Homo sapiens: one gene and its partners. The protein of the gene in region 1 purifies or fractionates together with the protein of each later gene. This does not show direct contact. Each region holds a gene or a part of one and is shown in the gene's direction. Other genes may lie near its edges.

The links. The genes of interacting proteins can lie anywhere in the genome.
Region 2: the proteins of SEC14L2 (region 1) and ANXA7 fractionate together in Homo sapiens (co-fractionation; one large-scale study listed by BioGRID). This does not show direct contact.
Region 3: the proteins of SEC14L2 (region 1) and RIDA fractionate together in Homo sapiens (co-fractionation; one large-scale study listed by BioGRID). This does not show direct contact.
Region 4: the proteins of SEC14L2 (region 1) and ALDH4A1 fractionate together in Homo sapiens (co-fractionation; one large-scale study listed by BioGRID). This does not show direct contact.

The regions. Positions count from the first base shown.
Region 1 is NC_000022.11:30,395,521-30,399,817, forward strand, and holds the start of SEC14L2 (SEC14-like protein 2), read left to right. Parts: upstream 1-1,497; 5' UTR 1,498-1,596; coding exon 1,597-1,650; intron 1,651-4,122; coding exon 4,123-4,198; intron 4,199-4,297. UniProt on the Homo sapiens protein: Carrier protein. Binds to some hydrophobic molecules and promotes their transfer between the different cellular sites. Binds with high affinity to alpha-tocopherol. Also binds with a weaker affinity to other tocopherols and to tocotrienols.
Region 2 is NC_000010.11:73,383,059-73,386,558, reverse strand, and holds part of ANXA7 (annexin A7), read left to right. Parts: intron 1-2,868; coding exon 2,869-2,982; intron 2,983-3,213; coding exon 3,214-3,384; intron 3,385-3,500. UniProt on the Homo sapiens protein: Calcium/phospholipid-binding protein which promotes membrane fusion and is involved in exocytosis.
Region 3 is NC_000008.11:98,104,508-98,107,171, reverse strand, and holds part of RIDA (2-iminobutanoate/2-iminopropanoate deaminase), read left to right. Parts: intron 1-845; coding exon 846-900; intron 901-1,165; coding exon 1,166-1,234; intron 1,235-2,627; coding exon 2,628-2,664. UniProt on the Homo sapiens protein: Catalyzes the hydrolytic deamination of enamine/imine intermediates that form during the course of normal metabolism. May facilitate the release of ammonia from these potentially toxic reactive metabolites, reducing their impact on cellular components.
Region 4 is NC_000001.11:18,878,556-18,882,055, reverse strand, and holds part of ALDH4A1 (delta-1-pyrroline-5-carboxylate dehydrogenase, mitochondrial isoform a precursor), read left to right. Parts: intron 1-168; coding exon 169-356; intron 357-2,682; coding exon 2,683-2,756; intron 2,757-3,500. UniProt on the Homo sapiens protein: Irreversible conversion of delta-1-pyrroline-5-carboxylate (P5C), derived either from proline or ornithine, to glutamate. This is a necessary step in the pathway interconnecting the urea and tricarboxylic acid cycles.

The DNA.
Region 1 (4,297 bases):
GAGACGGGGTTTCACCATGTTGGCCAGGCTAGTCTCAAACTCCTGACCTCAGGTGATCTGCCTGCCTTGGCCTCCCAAAGTGCTGGGATTATAGGTGTGAGCCACCGCGCCCGGCCAAGATGCTGTTCTTCTATAATAGTTTCCTTTGAGTAGGCTCTAGCCTGGAAAGAATATCCTGGCCCTGGAAGGGTCTTATATAAAGATCTTAGCCATGTATCCAGTAAGGAAGGCAGCCCTGTCCTGCCCCAGGCCAGAAGCCAGCGAGCCTAACTAGGGCAGAACTGCCTGAAAACTCTCTGTAGAGGTGGGCGTTGGGGGCCTCAACCCTCACTCTGCACCCTGCAGCAGGCGTCTATGGAGGGGGCCACACCAAGGGCAGAGCAAAGTCCTTAAATGTCTTTAACAGGCCTGGTGCCTTTGCCTCCAGGTAAGGAGAGAGACTGGGGACATTCTGCTTTGTCTCTCCCAGAGACTTGAGTGTTGAGGGGGCAGAAGTATGGCTCTGGGAGACGAGATGCCCACAGACTCCTGGACCTAGCTCTGCATTAATTCCAGGCCATAAGGGGAGGGCACAGCTGAGCACTTTCCATGTGCCAGGCAGTGGGCACTCCACATATGTCATGCCACTAACAACTTTGGGCAAGCCATGCCTTATCTGGGCCTCAGTTTCCCTAGCTGTTAAACGAGGTAAGTTGCATGATCCCTGAATGATCTATGTTTCTCTCTCCCTCTCAGGGTTCTGCCAGCCCCGGGATCTGTGTCTCTATTGGAGCAGTTCTTACATTCATTCATTCATTCAGGATACATTTATTAATAATCCCTGTAGGCTGGGCACCGTGGCTCACATTTGTAATCCTAGCACTTTGAGAGGCCGAGGCGGATCACTTGAGGTCAGGAGTTCGACACCCGCCTGGCCAACATGGTGAAACCCCATCTGTACTAAAAATACAAAAATTAGCTTGGCATGGTGGCGTGCACCTGTAATCCCAGCTACTCGGGAGGCCGAGGCAGGAGAATAGCTTGAACCCGGGAGGCGAAGGTTGCAGTGAGCCGAGGTCGTGACACTGCACTCCAGCCTGGGTGACAGAGCGAGTCTCCGTTTCAAAAAAAAAACAATGCAAAAACAATCCCTGTGTGCAGGATGCTGTGCTGTCCTGCACTATGCGAGCCTGGTTAGAAGAGCTCATTAGATAGCACCTTTCAATCCCTCCTTGTTCAGAGGCCCAGAGAGCTCAGGTGTCTCTTCCAAGGTCACACAATGAGGTAAGGATAAATTTGGAACTAAAACTGAGACTCCCTGCCCTTCTGATGCCCACTGGCCTCAGTCCCAGTGGGCACACTTGCTCGCCTCCTGCCTGGGTCTCTGACTTCAGGAGGGCGGAGGGGGCCCGTGTCAGAGCCTTCCGCGCCCCAGCGCATCGCTCCCTACTCCGCCTCTCGGGATCCTTTAAGAGGCGGGGCTTGGCTGCCAGCTCCGCGGCCCGGGCAAAAGGCTGGGACTTTACTCCGGGTGGCGGCGAGGACGAGTCTGTGCTCCATCAGCTGCCGCACCCGCCGCCTCCCGCCCCCAAACCCCATCCCCGCGGTTGAGCCACGATGAGCGGCAGAGTCGGCGATCTGAGCCCCAGGCAGAAGGAGGCATTGGCCAAGGTGAGCTGTAGCCCTGGCCCGGGCTCCCGCCTCGGGCTGTGGCCCTCGCCCTCCTGCGGCAGCGAGAAGGGACGGGGCTGGGTGGGGGCCGAGGGTCCGTGGCGGGCGGCGGAGGGAACAGAGGCGGCTGTCCCAGCCTGGCCCGCGCCCGCGGATGGCTCCTTCCTCCCTTTGCCACCCTCGAGGTCCCAGGAAGTTTGGCCACCCCCCGCCCAAGCTCTGAGCAGCCGTGGCGGTGCCACCTGGGGACAAGTGGTTGCTTGTGAGTCCCCGGAGGCCGCTGAGGGCACAAAGGCAACATTCATCCTCGGGACTGGCAGCCGGGCCCTGGGGCAGGGGCAGGGGCAGGGGCCCAAGTTTCCTCCCATTTCCGGGAGGCTTTCTTCTTGTAGGGTCAGTGGCACGATGGAAAGGGCTCTGGATAGCTCCTTGGGAGACTTGGATAGCTCCTGCCCCGGCACCAAGCCGCTGTGCGACCTTGGGCAAAACCCTGCCCTTCTCTTTGCTCCTCGATGCCATGGAATGAGGAGGTTGGACCAGATGATGTTGAAGGGAACACCTCCGTGTGTGAATTCCAGGCTCCCCCCATGAGGCACTGGGTTGGTGTTAGTTTGAGCTGAGACCAGCCGTCCCCTATCTTGCATCCCAGACCCCTGCCTGGTTCAGGACTTAAGGTTTATGCTCCTCAGAAGGCAAGAAGGTGAGCCTGGCTTTGCCTTGGCATCTGTGACAAGGAGGGGGCAACAGTTTGAGGGCGGGACCTTCCTCTTCACGAACTAAATCTCTTATCTGTCACCCCTGGGGAGTGAGGAGGTCGGCTCTTCTCTGGGCAAGAGCCGATAGGGTCTGGCCCCAAGATTTGGAGGCTCCACAGCTGGGGAGTTTTCCATGGCTGGGAAAGGTGGGGCGGGGGGCAGATGTATCCTGCCACTGGCAGCAGTGGGGAGGCACCAGCTCCATAAAGCCTCTGTCCCAGGCTGGGCCTCCCCCATCCCAGGAAGGCTGGACAGGGAGGCTTCAGATTTTACTGCTGACTCGCAGGAGAGGTCAGGCAGAGAAGGGATTAGGTGGTGATTAAACTGGAGACCAGGGGCTGGTTAGGGTCCTTGGAGAGGGGTAGCTTCATGCCTGCAGTTTGGAGGAGCAGTTTCCCTGGTGCACTGGGAGCTGCTTTGTGGGGTGGGATGGTCTGAGTCCCTGGCTGACCTAGGCAAGGGGCAGAGGTGGCCAGTCCTCATTAGTGTCCTCTGGGACTGCCCTCTAGGTCAGTGGTCAGGGAAAGGTGAATGGCTGGGAGCAGGAGGCTCAGGGAGGGCATATAGGGGCCTGTTCGCCTACCAGGGAGTGAGAGGTTGGAGGTAGGTGTGGCTGTCCATTGAGGTCACTGTCCACCTCCTTTGTTTGGCACTACCTGCACTTTCCCGCTTCCTGGCTTCCCCTACTGGAACTGTTCCCTCCACCTGAGTTGCCCACCTCTCTCCCCCGCTGCCTTTGAAGTCCTTCAAGCCCAGCACAAATGCCATGTTTTATAGGAAGCCGTGTGAGACCACCTCTTTCTTCCCTCTGCTCCCCAGCAAACTCCTCATCCTTCCATGGGGCAGAAGACCATGGTGGAAAGAGTGTGTGCTCTGGACTCAGACAGACCCGGGTTTGCATCCCAACTCTGCTAATGACTAGCTGTTTGACCTTGGGCATGTTACTTAGCCTCTCTGAGCTTTAATTCCTTCATCTGTAGAATGGGGACAATACTTCTACGGGTTGTGAGTGAGGAGTAAATAAGCTATGGTGCCAAGATCAGCGCTGAGCGACAGGAAATGCTTGGTAAACTGACAGCTTTTACTGCAGTCCGTATCAGAGTGCCTACTATCACGATTAGCTGGGAACACATCTGCCTGCCCGCAGACTGGTGTGTGGGAGCCCTTGTTGTGGGGCAGGGGCAGTGTCTCACTCCCTTCCCACTTCCTGCCCTGCAACCTGGCACCCCCTGACAAGACAGTGCTCCAGGCAGCATGAGTGCCCAGGGAGTGTCTGCAGAGTTGAACTATGTTAAAGAGAAGTCCAGTTGGCCGGGCGTGGGGGTTCATGCCTGTAATCCCAGCACTTTAGACCGAGATGGGCGGATCAGGACGAGGTCAGGAGATCAAGACTACCCTGGCTAACACGGTGAAACCCTGTCTCTACTAAAAATACAAAAAATAGCCAGGCGTGTTGGCAGGCCCCTGTAGTCCCAGCTACTTGGGAGGCTGAGTCAGGAGAATGGTGTGAACCCGGGAGGCAGAGCTTACAGGGAGTGGAGATCGCCCACCGCACTCCAGCCTGGGCGAGAGTGCGAGACTCTATCTCAAAAAAAAAAAAAAAAAAAAAAAAGAAACAAAGAAAGAGGCGTCCAGCAAAGATCTCAGTGGAGAGTCCTAGGCAGAGGGCAGCAGTCAGGGCGGGCCCTACCACTCACCCCGATGCCTCTCCCTACAGTTTCGGGAGAATGTCCAGGATGTGCTGCCGGCCCTGCCGAATCCAGATGACTATTTTCTCCTGCGTTGGCTCCGAGGTGAGGGAAGAGGGGCTGCGGGAGGCTGGGGCAGGGGCTTGTTCTGGGCAACAGAATAGCACCCTCTGAAAACCCTGCCCTTGGCAATTGAGGCATCTA
Region 2 (3,500 bases), on another chromosome or scaffold:
AAGATTTGGCTTAAATATCAGCTACTCTGAAGTTTCTTTCATTAGTCTGGACAGAATTTAGCTGCTTCTTAATACTGTAGTCCCATAGCACTTTGTAAAACCTCTGTTATTACTAATCTCACGGCCCACCCCCAAAAACTGAGCTCCCATAGGACAAACCATGGTCATAGTCATCTTTGTATTACAGTACCAAGTATATAATGGCAAGTAGCCACTTAGTACTTGTTGAATGGATGATCAGTTTCTAAATCCAACAAGATTCTATGGCTAAAAAATGCCATTGTTCCTCAGATGTAATGGGAAAACATGGATAGCACTGCTTTGCTTTTTTTTTTTTTTTTTTTACTTTTTTTTGAGACAGAGTCTCAAAAGGCTGGAGTGCAGTGGCATGATCTCCGCTCACTGCAGCCTCCACTTTCCAGGCAAGAGCGATTTTCGTGCCTCAGCCTCTCGAGTAGCTGGAATTATAGGTGTCTGCCACCACACCCAGCTAATTTTTGTACTTTTAGTAGAGACGGGATTTTGCCATGTTAGCAAGTGTGGTCTCAAACTCTTGGCCTCATGTGATCTGCCTGCCTTGGCCTCCCAAAGTGCTGGGATTACAGGCATGAGCCACCACGCCTGACCTGCTTTGCCATTTAGATAGGAATCCTAAAAATATCCTAATGTTCTCTGCATCTAGTTTATATTTCTCAGAATGGGGTAGTGGTCCATTGATTGGTCCCACCTTGCTTATTCTATTTTGCCTTTCCCTGTCTGCCCAGCCCAGTGACTGATTATGCAACACAAACCCTAGATCTCCTTAAGCTTCAACATCAGACTCACTATTCTCACAAAGATATTTTCCATGTTATGAATTTTTTATCTAGTCTGCACAATGCTGTCTCAAGTTTTTTTATATATTGCTTTAGAATTAAAACTAACAATCTAATTTCCGTACCACTAGCCACCTCTTTTCTTAACTTCCTAATTAGTAAAACACTGTTTTTCTAGCCTGCTATAGTCATCTTTGAGTCCATGTTTTTCTTTTATCATAGGGAGTATTCTGTATGCTTTGTCCTAGCAGTTGGTTATTTACTAGTTTTTATTGATCTAATCTATAAAATGGCCCTTTAAAATGTTTCTTTTGTCTACTTTGTTCCTTCTCATTTCCATTGTTACCATTCAAGTCCAAGACTTTATTACCTCTTAACTAAATATTCCAGTAGCCTAAATGTTTTCATCTATAGCTTCTTTGTCACCATCATCCATTCTGAATATTGTTGCTACATCAGTGCCATTTTCTTGCATGAAAAGTTTCCAGTGGTTCCTCCCAGCAAACAGAATCAAGTCCATATTCTTTAGCTTGGCATTCAGTGTAATAATCCAAGATTTAGTTACAACTTTGTTTTAACTCATCTATTATGAAAACCTTCCTCTGTAGCAAAACCGGTTGTCTTATTGTTCCATTGAACAAGCTTTGCTCATTCTTGGCTCTATACGAGTAATTCTCAACCTTAACTGAACATCGTAATTTCCTTTAAAACTTAAAAATACACAGAATCTCTGAGTCTTAGTCCTGGACATCAATGTTTTTCTTTTTTTTTTTAAAGCTCCACAATGAATGTAATGAAGAGTCAAGGCTGGGAACCCCTTCTCTGTTCCTTGGTGGTGTTCCTTCTTACCTGAAATACCTTTCTCCTTCGTCTTTGCATGCTAATTTTTACATTTTTCTCTGAGCTCTCCAGCTGACTTTGAACTTTTTCTGTTTCAACTTTCTCTATTACTTATTTCTATGCTACTTACCCAGTGCTAGAGTACAGGTTACCTTACATTATTTTTTTTTTAGATGTGTATCTTTCCAAATAAGAACAATATCGGCTGGGCACAGTGGTTCATGTGTGTAATGCCAGCACTTCGGGAGGCCAAGGCGGGTGTATCACTTGGGGTCAGGCATTCAAGACCAGCCTGGCCAACATGTGAAACCCCATCTCTACTAAAAATACAAAAATTAGCCTGGCGTGGTGGGATGTGCCTGTAGTCCCAGCTACTCAGGGGGCTGAGGAAGGAGAAGCGCTTGAACCCAGGAGGCAGAGGTTGCAGTTAGCCGAGATCACACCACTGCATTCCAGCCTGGGCCACAGAGCGAGACTCTGTCTCAAAAAAAATAACAACAAAAAACAAATAAGAACAAGATGATAATGGTTTCTACTTCCTCATAGAACCAAGAACAGTTCCTTTTACTAAGTAAATATCTGTTTATCATTTTGTCAGTTTGAATAATTCTTTGTTTCATATATCCCTTGTTTTTGTACCTGGTAGAGTGGAATAAGATTTTATTAAATGTTTATTGATAGAATGAATAAAATAGATCTGCTTGAGTGTAATAAATGTGTAAGTGTAACAGACTTTAAATTTATTTACTTCTTTTTTATTTCTATTTATTTATTTTTTTTTTTGAGACGGAGTCTTGCTCTGTCGCCCAGGCTGGAGTGCAGTGGTGCGATCTCAGCTCACTGCAAGCTCTGCCTCCCAGGTTCACGCTGTTCTCTTGTGTCAGCCTCCCGAGGACCTGGGACTACAGGTGCCTGCCACCACTCCCGGTTAATTTTTTGTGTTTTTAGTAGAGACAGGGTTTCACCGTGTTAACCAGGATGGTCTTGATCTCCTGACCTCATGATCCTCCTGCCTTGACCTCCCAAAGTGCTGGGATTACAGGCATGAGCCACCGCGCCTGGCCTTTATTTACTTCTTAGTATATTAACATTCAGCTTTCAAATTTAGGTTTTTATAAAGCAATTCCATTTCTTTTTTTGTATTTTCCTTAAAAGATTTAAGTGACAAAATTTGGAGAACACATATACTTAGCTTGTATTTGTGATTAAATAGGATTTAATCAAAGATCTCAAATCAGAGTTAAGTGGAAATATGGAAGAACTGATCCTGGCCCTCTTCATGCCTCCTACGTATTACGATGCCTGGAGCTTACGGAAAGCAATGCAGGTACTACTATATGTCATTTATTATGAATATTTTGTCCTATTTCATATGTAAAACCGTACAAATTATGACAGTTCTGAATTTACAGTGGTAATTAAAGCAATTCTTTATTTCACATCATCCATCTGAATATATAGTTTTTAGTTCTACAGAACAAAGAAATATTTGACGAAGATTTAATTACTTGCAGAAATTTCATTTTTCTTTGTATAATCTTCCCTTCATTTCATGTAGGGAGCAGGAACTCAGGAACGTGTATTGATTGAGATTTTGTGCACAAGAACAAATCAGGAAATCCGAGAAATTGTCAGATGTTATCAGTCAGAATTTGGACGAGACCTTGAAAAGGACATTAGGTCAGATACATCAGGACATTTTGAACGTTTACTTGTGTCCATGTGCCAGGTGAGTATAGTATGAATGCTTGTGCGTTGATAGAGGGAACATACTTTAAAAGCCTTTTGCCAGTGAGCATTCTTTATTCCTTTTAATATTTAGCCACCTTGCAATATTGCCATCTT
Region 3 (2,664 bases), on another chromosome or scaffold:
TACAACTAAAGTAATGTGGAAAGATCTCCGAGGTAAATTGTTCCATGGTAATAAAACCAAGATGCAGAACAACATGCACAGTATGCTACCATGTGTGCTTGTGTGTTTAAAAATATGTAACATAAGCATTGACTGTACCTAGAAGGATATACAATAAATTAGGAACAGTGGTTACCTCTGAGGAGGGAAACTTGGGAGAGGGAGAGAGGGGTGAGAGATATCTTTACACGGTATATGCTTTTTTAATAGCTTTTGAGTTTTTTTGTTGTTGTTGTTGCCATATCCATGTATTACCTATTTAGAAGATTATTTTAAAAGACACAAGAATATAATGAAATATTGCATTGTGACCAGCAAAGTGGGAAGAGTGAATCCAAAAAAAGATAAATGTTTTTCCAGAAGCCAGTGTCTCCAACTGTTATATAATTTACTAATATTGTTTTTTTGAGAAAAAGGAAAAAGAACCCTTTGAAGTCAAATATTGCTTTAAAAGAAAATATGTTTTAATGCTTACTAGCTCATCCTTATCCTTGACGTGATATCGAATGAAGAACACCAGAAATTATTTCTGTGGACATTGGCTGAACAATTAACACATTTTAGCACTGAAGAAGGAACTTCAACCTAGTCTTTTTACGCACAAAAGGAGACAACATTTTCACCATATATCAGAAAGACTCATTCTATTAAAGGAAAGCCAAGAAACACACTTGTAAGCGAGTAGGGAGGATTTTTCTGCAACATAGGCTATTTAAGGAGGTATTAGTAAAAGATGATTAATTGAATTTAATTAAAGCTTTAAATCTAACATCAGTGACTTAGGCCTTTCTTGGCTTGGTTCACAGGCTCTTAAAAACATGGGTGAAATTCTGAAAGCTGCAGGCTGTGACTTCACTAACGGTGAGCAATTTGATATTATTTCACATTTCTTTTTGATATTTCTTTGGTCTTTTTGAAAAATATATGGCATCCAGTAAGATGCCGTGCCATATCTTTGTTGCTATTTAAAAGTTGTTTTAAATAGCAACTGTTCTACTTCACTTCTTTGGTCCCATTTCAGTCCCATTTTAATCAAGACAGTCTCAGATTCATACACTCTTTTTCTAAGTAATGTTTTGGGTCAGACCAAATAACTAAACCTAATGACAATGTTTATATCTTCTAGTGGTGAAAACAACTGTTCTTCTGGCTGACATAAATGACTTCAATACTGTCAATGAAATCTACAAACAGTGTAAGTAATTTGGCTTTATTCCTATTTTCCATTTTTAAAAAGAAAGAAATCTGGTCACATTAATGAATGTGCATTATGAATTAAGAGTGGTAGGAGATGCTAAAGAAATGGTCATAGATCTTAAAAGAATTAATAATCTGATTGGAAATATGTTGTATACCCCCCATGAAAAAGTTCTAAGACATTTCTATTGCATTCCCTAAAACAATATACTGAAATCCTACATATCCATTTTTCAAAAGCTTAATTTCATTAAATCCTTCTCAGGCTTTTTAAACTCTCCTAACAAGTTTTTTATGCATAGATTTTATTTACTGTGGCTGTATGGTGCAGCCACCATCTTTATCCTGGCTCTCTCAGACTCATTAGTTAGTTACTTAATATTTCTATGCCTTGGTTTTCTCATATGCAAAATGGAGATAATATACTCCTAACTTATAGGGTTGTTGGAATGATTAAATGAGTCAGTACAACATGTAAAGCACTTAGATGCTGGTGTGTTATAAGCACTGAGTAAATGTTAGCTATTATTAACATTGATGTTATAGTAGGGAAAATTGGTGTCCCCAACACCTAATGGGATGAGGCAAAGGTATAACTTGGAAAAAGCATCGTTACTTATTCTCTCCTGAAGAAATTATTAGAAAAGACCAAAGTTGGCAGAGGAAGTACTTGCCAAAATTTCTGGAGATGGGCACTTGTTCCCTATTTAGATAAATAGTTTATAAATATCACTTTAAAAACAAAACTCCATTCACATCAAACAAGATCAAAATGTTAGGGTATGTATTTCTTTTTTTTTTTTTTTTTTTTTTTTGCCAGAAAGCTAAGAGATTTTAAAAAGTATTAACTATCATAGGAATCATATGGCAAAATATTTTATCAAACAAATCTGATAGTGAGCCTCTTTTTTAAAATGTTGCTTAAGGCCAGGAGCAGTGGCTCACACCTATAATCCCAGCACTTTGAGAGGCTGAGGTGGGTGGATCACTTGACATTAGGAGTTTGAGACCAGTCTGGCCAACATGGTGAAGCCCCGACTCTACTAAAAATACAAAAATGAGCCAGGCATGGTGGTGCACACCTGTAATCCCAGCTACTCGGGAGGCTGAGGCAGGAGAATCTCTTGAACATGGGAGACAGAGGTTGCAGTAAGCTGAGATCGCATCACTTCACTCCAGCCTTGGGCGATAGAGCAAGACTCTGTTTCAAAAAAATAAAAATAAATGTTGCTTATATCTAAGAACTGACTAGTATATGAAATATTTGCCAGATTATTAATTGTAGATATTGAATAACAATAGAATATCTGAAAACTAAAATAAAAATTTTCACTTGATCTTTATTTTTTCAACTCTTCTCTATTAAAAAAATGAAATTCTTTTAAATTCAGATTTCAAGAGTAATTTTCCTGCTAGAGCTGCTTACCA
Region 4 (3,500 bases), on another chromosome or scaffold:
AGATAGGGCCAGACGCCTTGGAGGAGTGGGGTCGGGTAGGGGATGTCCTGGTTGGCACAGAGTCTGGTGGTTCCAGGTGAGGGACAACCATGCTGTAGGGTAGGGTGGGGTGGGGGTTGGGGGCTGGTGGCGCCATCCTCATGCATCACTGAAACACCTCCCGGGCAGGGCAACGTGGTCCTATGGAAGCCCAGTGACACTGCCATGCTGGCCAGCTATGCTGTCTACCGCATCCTTCGGGAGGCTGGCCTGCCCCCCAACATCATCCAGTTTGTGCCAGCTGATGGGCCCCTATTTGGGGACACTGTCACCAGCTCAGAGCACCTCTGTGGCATCAACTTCACAGGCAGTGTGCCGTAAGTCCCTGGGGATGGTGTAGGCTGTGGTGGCTAGGGGACGTTCACCTGCTCACCTGCTGTCTGCCTGGGGATGGGGCTGTGAACCCAGGGGTCATGCACGGACTCTACTCCCTTACTTGCTGTGTGGCTATGAGTGAGCCACTTCACCTCTCTGAGCTTCCATTTCTTCACCTGTACAGGGAGTGATTATCCTTAATTTGCAGAGTCATTGCAAGGATTAAACATGTTAATGAACAGGAAAGAGCTTCGCAGACTGGAAGTGCACCCTACAGCTGTGGGTAATATTGATTTCAGTGCTACCTCTGCTACTGGAAAGGGCACAGGGGAGCACAGAATGAACTGGAGGAGTCAGGAAGCCTTCCTGGAGGAGGTGACATCTAAGCAGAGGAGTTGGCCAGGCAGAGGGGAAGAGGCAGGAGAAGAATATATATGTTGGGAGAGGGAATAGCACATACAATGTTGCCAAGCCAAAAACTTGTGCTCTGGGGCATGGCAGGATCCTGTGTGGCTGGAGTGTGGAGTTTGGGGGCGACAGGGCAAGAGAGTGAGGGCAGGGCATGGTTTGAGTTGAGGTAGGGGAGGCAGGCCACTACCTGATCTCGACCATCCATGCACTCACTGGCTGAGCAGGAAATTTGGAGCTCACACTAAGGCTCAGTGGTGAGCACACACCAGGGACAAGGTCCCGGCTCTCAGGCTGGAGGTGGCGGCAGGGAGTGGTTCAGTGACCATAAGATACTTAGGAGTCTGCAAAGGTGTCTGGCCTTTATCCTGAAGGTGATGGGAGCCATGGAAGGCTTCAAGCAGGGAGAGTGGCTGAGTCAGAGTTCTGTGTCAGGCAGAGATTGCAAATAATGGCCCCCAAATTGGATCTGGCAAGAGGCTCTACTTTCTTTGACTCCTAACAGTGATGGCCCAACTTTGTATAATTGGGACAATTTCATAGATAAATCCAAATATTGGCCTGTCTTGGTCCCCTGGACCTGGATGCTCTGATCTTGCATTTCCTGGTGGTACCACTGGCTGGAAGTGGGTGGGTGCCCTCTGGCTCCCTGCATACCTGATCCACGCTGTTTCCTTTCCCTGCTGGCTCCTCTGGGCCCCTGTGTTGGCACCCTCATTCTCAGTGATCTCTCTGTGACCTGATGCAGGAGACTGGCCAGGGACTGTTGACCTCCAGGGAGGGGTGGTAGGGGCTTGAACCAGGGGAGAGATGGGGGATGTGGAGAAGGGGGCAGGTTCAGGTGAGAAGGATGCAGGGAGGCACAGTGGCCATTGCCTGTCCTGGAGTTGGGGTTGGGGTGCGTGTGGGGATGAGGGGGGTTGTCAGCGAGAATGTTCAAGATGGGCACCTGGGAGGGCGAGCGGGCTCGGGGGAAGATGAATCTCCTGTTGGTCACTTCGGGTGTTATCTGGGTGGAGATGCCTGGAGGCAGCCAGACGCCCGGGTCTGCAGCTCAGGGTCCTTCTTACCTCCTCTTCCAGGCCCCAGGCTCTGCCACCCCCTTCCCCGCAGCTTTGCTGGGGGTGGGAGTGGGTGGTGGCAGCGTTAGAACTGCTGAGAAGGGCCGTTTTCCAAAAGGCCTGCTCTGCCAGCCACGGGCCCCTGGGCTCCCCGCCTATCAGCGGGCGGAGCGGGCCTGGACCCCATTCTCCACGCTCTGATGAGCAGCGGGCTTAAAGGTGGGAAGGCCATAAATTAGTATTAGCTACTGTGTCGCTGGCTCCCGGGTGATTAGCATTTTTATTGTTTTGTGGTGCTGAGGTTGGTCACACTTGGAGCCTGGGGAGGAGGCGAGGCCCTCCAGGGTGGTGGCTTCGGGCGGGGCCTGAGCTCCCTCTCCCAGGACTCTCCTCGGTTTGGCCTCTCAGGCCTGGGCGCTGGGCTTGGGGGGGATCCTTCGCAGACCACAGCGGGGTCTGTTCCCTGCCAGGTACCTGCAGTGTGCCCAGCATGTCTTAAGCACATGCCTCACACTTGAACTCATCACAAAACAACCCTGCCAGGTCAGGATTGTTCTCCCTGTTTCCCAGATGAGGTGCAGAATTCGAGGCTCAGAGAGGTTAAGTAATGAACCCAGGATCACACAGCCCTTAGTGTCCTCCTGGCTGCAGAACATGGACCTCCTCTGCAGCATCTTGCTGCCTAGCCCCCCGTTGCCCGCTCCCCGTAGTCTTGGAATGCAGCCTGTTCCCAGCCGCCATCCCCGACTTGGCTCCCACCTCCTGCTGGGCTGCCCCCGGCAATGCTCCTCCCTGGGCTTTTCCGCCCCCTTCCTCTGGCCTGGCTCCCTGAACCCCACCCTTTCTCCTGTGGTTCCAGCACCTTCAAACACCTGTGGAAGCAGGTGGCCCAGAACCTGGACCGGTTCCACACCTTCCCACGCCTGGCTGGAGGTAAGGCCTGCCTCACCTCCTCCTCCCGTGTGGCCCCAGGGACCCCTCCCCTGGCCATTATGAAAGAGGAGGGAGGTAGAGGGGATCCAGCCACAAGTCAGGTGGATGAACCATTTCAGGCACCAGCACTGCCCAGTAGAACTTTTTGTGATGAGGGATGCGTCCAGTACCTTCACTCTCCAATATGCAGCCACCAGCCACACATGGCCATGGAGCCCTTGAAGGGTGGCCTGTGCGACTGAGGAACTGCATTATCTAGTTTTCTTTCATTTTAATTAAGTTAAATCTTAGTAGCCAGTCGTGGCTGGTGGCTGCCGTGTCGGGCATTGCAGCTGTAAGCGGAGGCAAGTGCAAATGCAGAGACCAGAAGTGGGAATGAACTTGTATTTGAAGAAACAAAGCAAGGCCCATGAGTAGGGAGGGAGGAGGGCTGGTAGGAGAAGACGGGCTGAGACGTAGGCAGGGCTGGACCTTGTTGGCATATTAAAGTTTTCCCACAAAGAAACAGTTTCATGGTCAAGGAAATTTGGCATGTGTGGTGTTAAAGCAAAATGGACTCCTCCCGTGCAGAACTTCTCAGAGCCTTGAATGCTCTAATACGCATGGCACATCTTCAAGGACAAGGTCTGCCATGTAGTGTTTCCCACACGCATTGGGCCATGGAACCCCGTTTCTGCAAAGACCCCCATGGACCAAGTGTTTTGTGGAGCACATTTTGGGAATGTGCTGAGGCCTAGAGGGAGG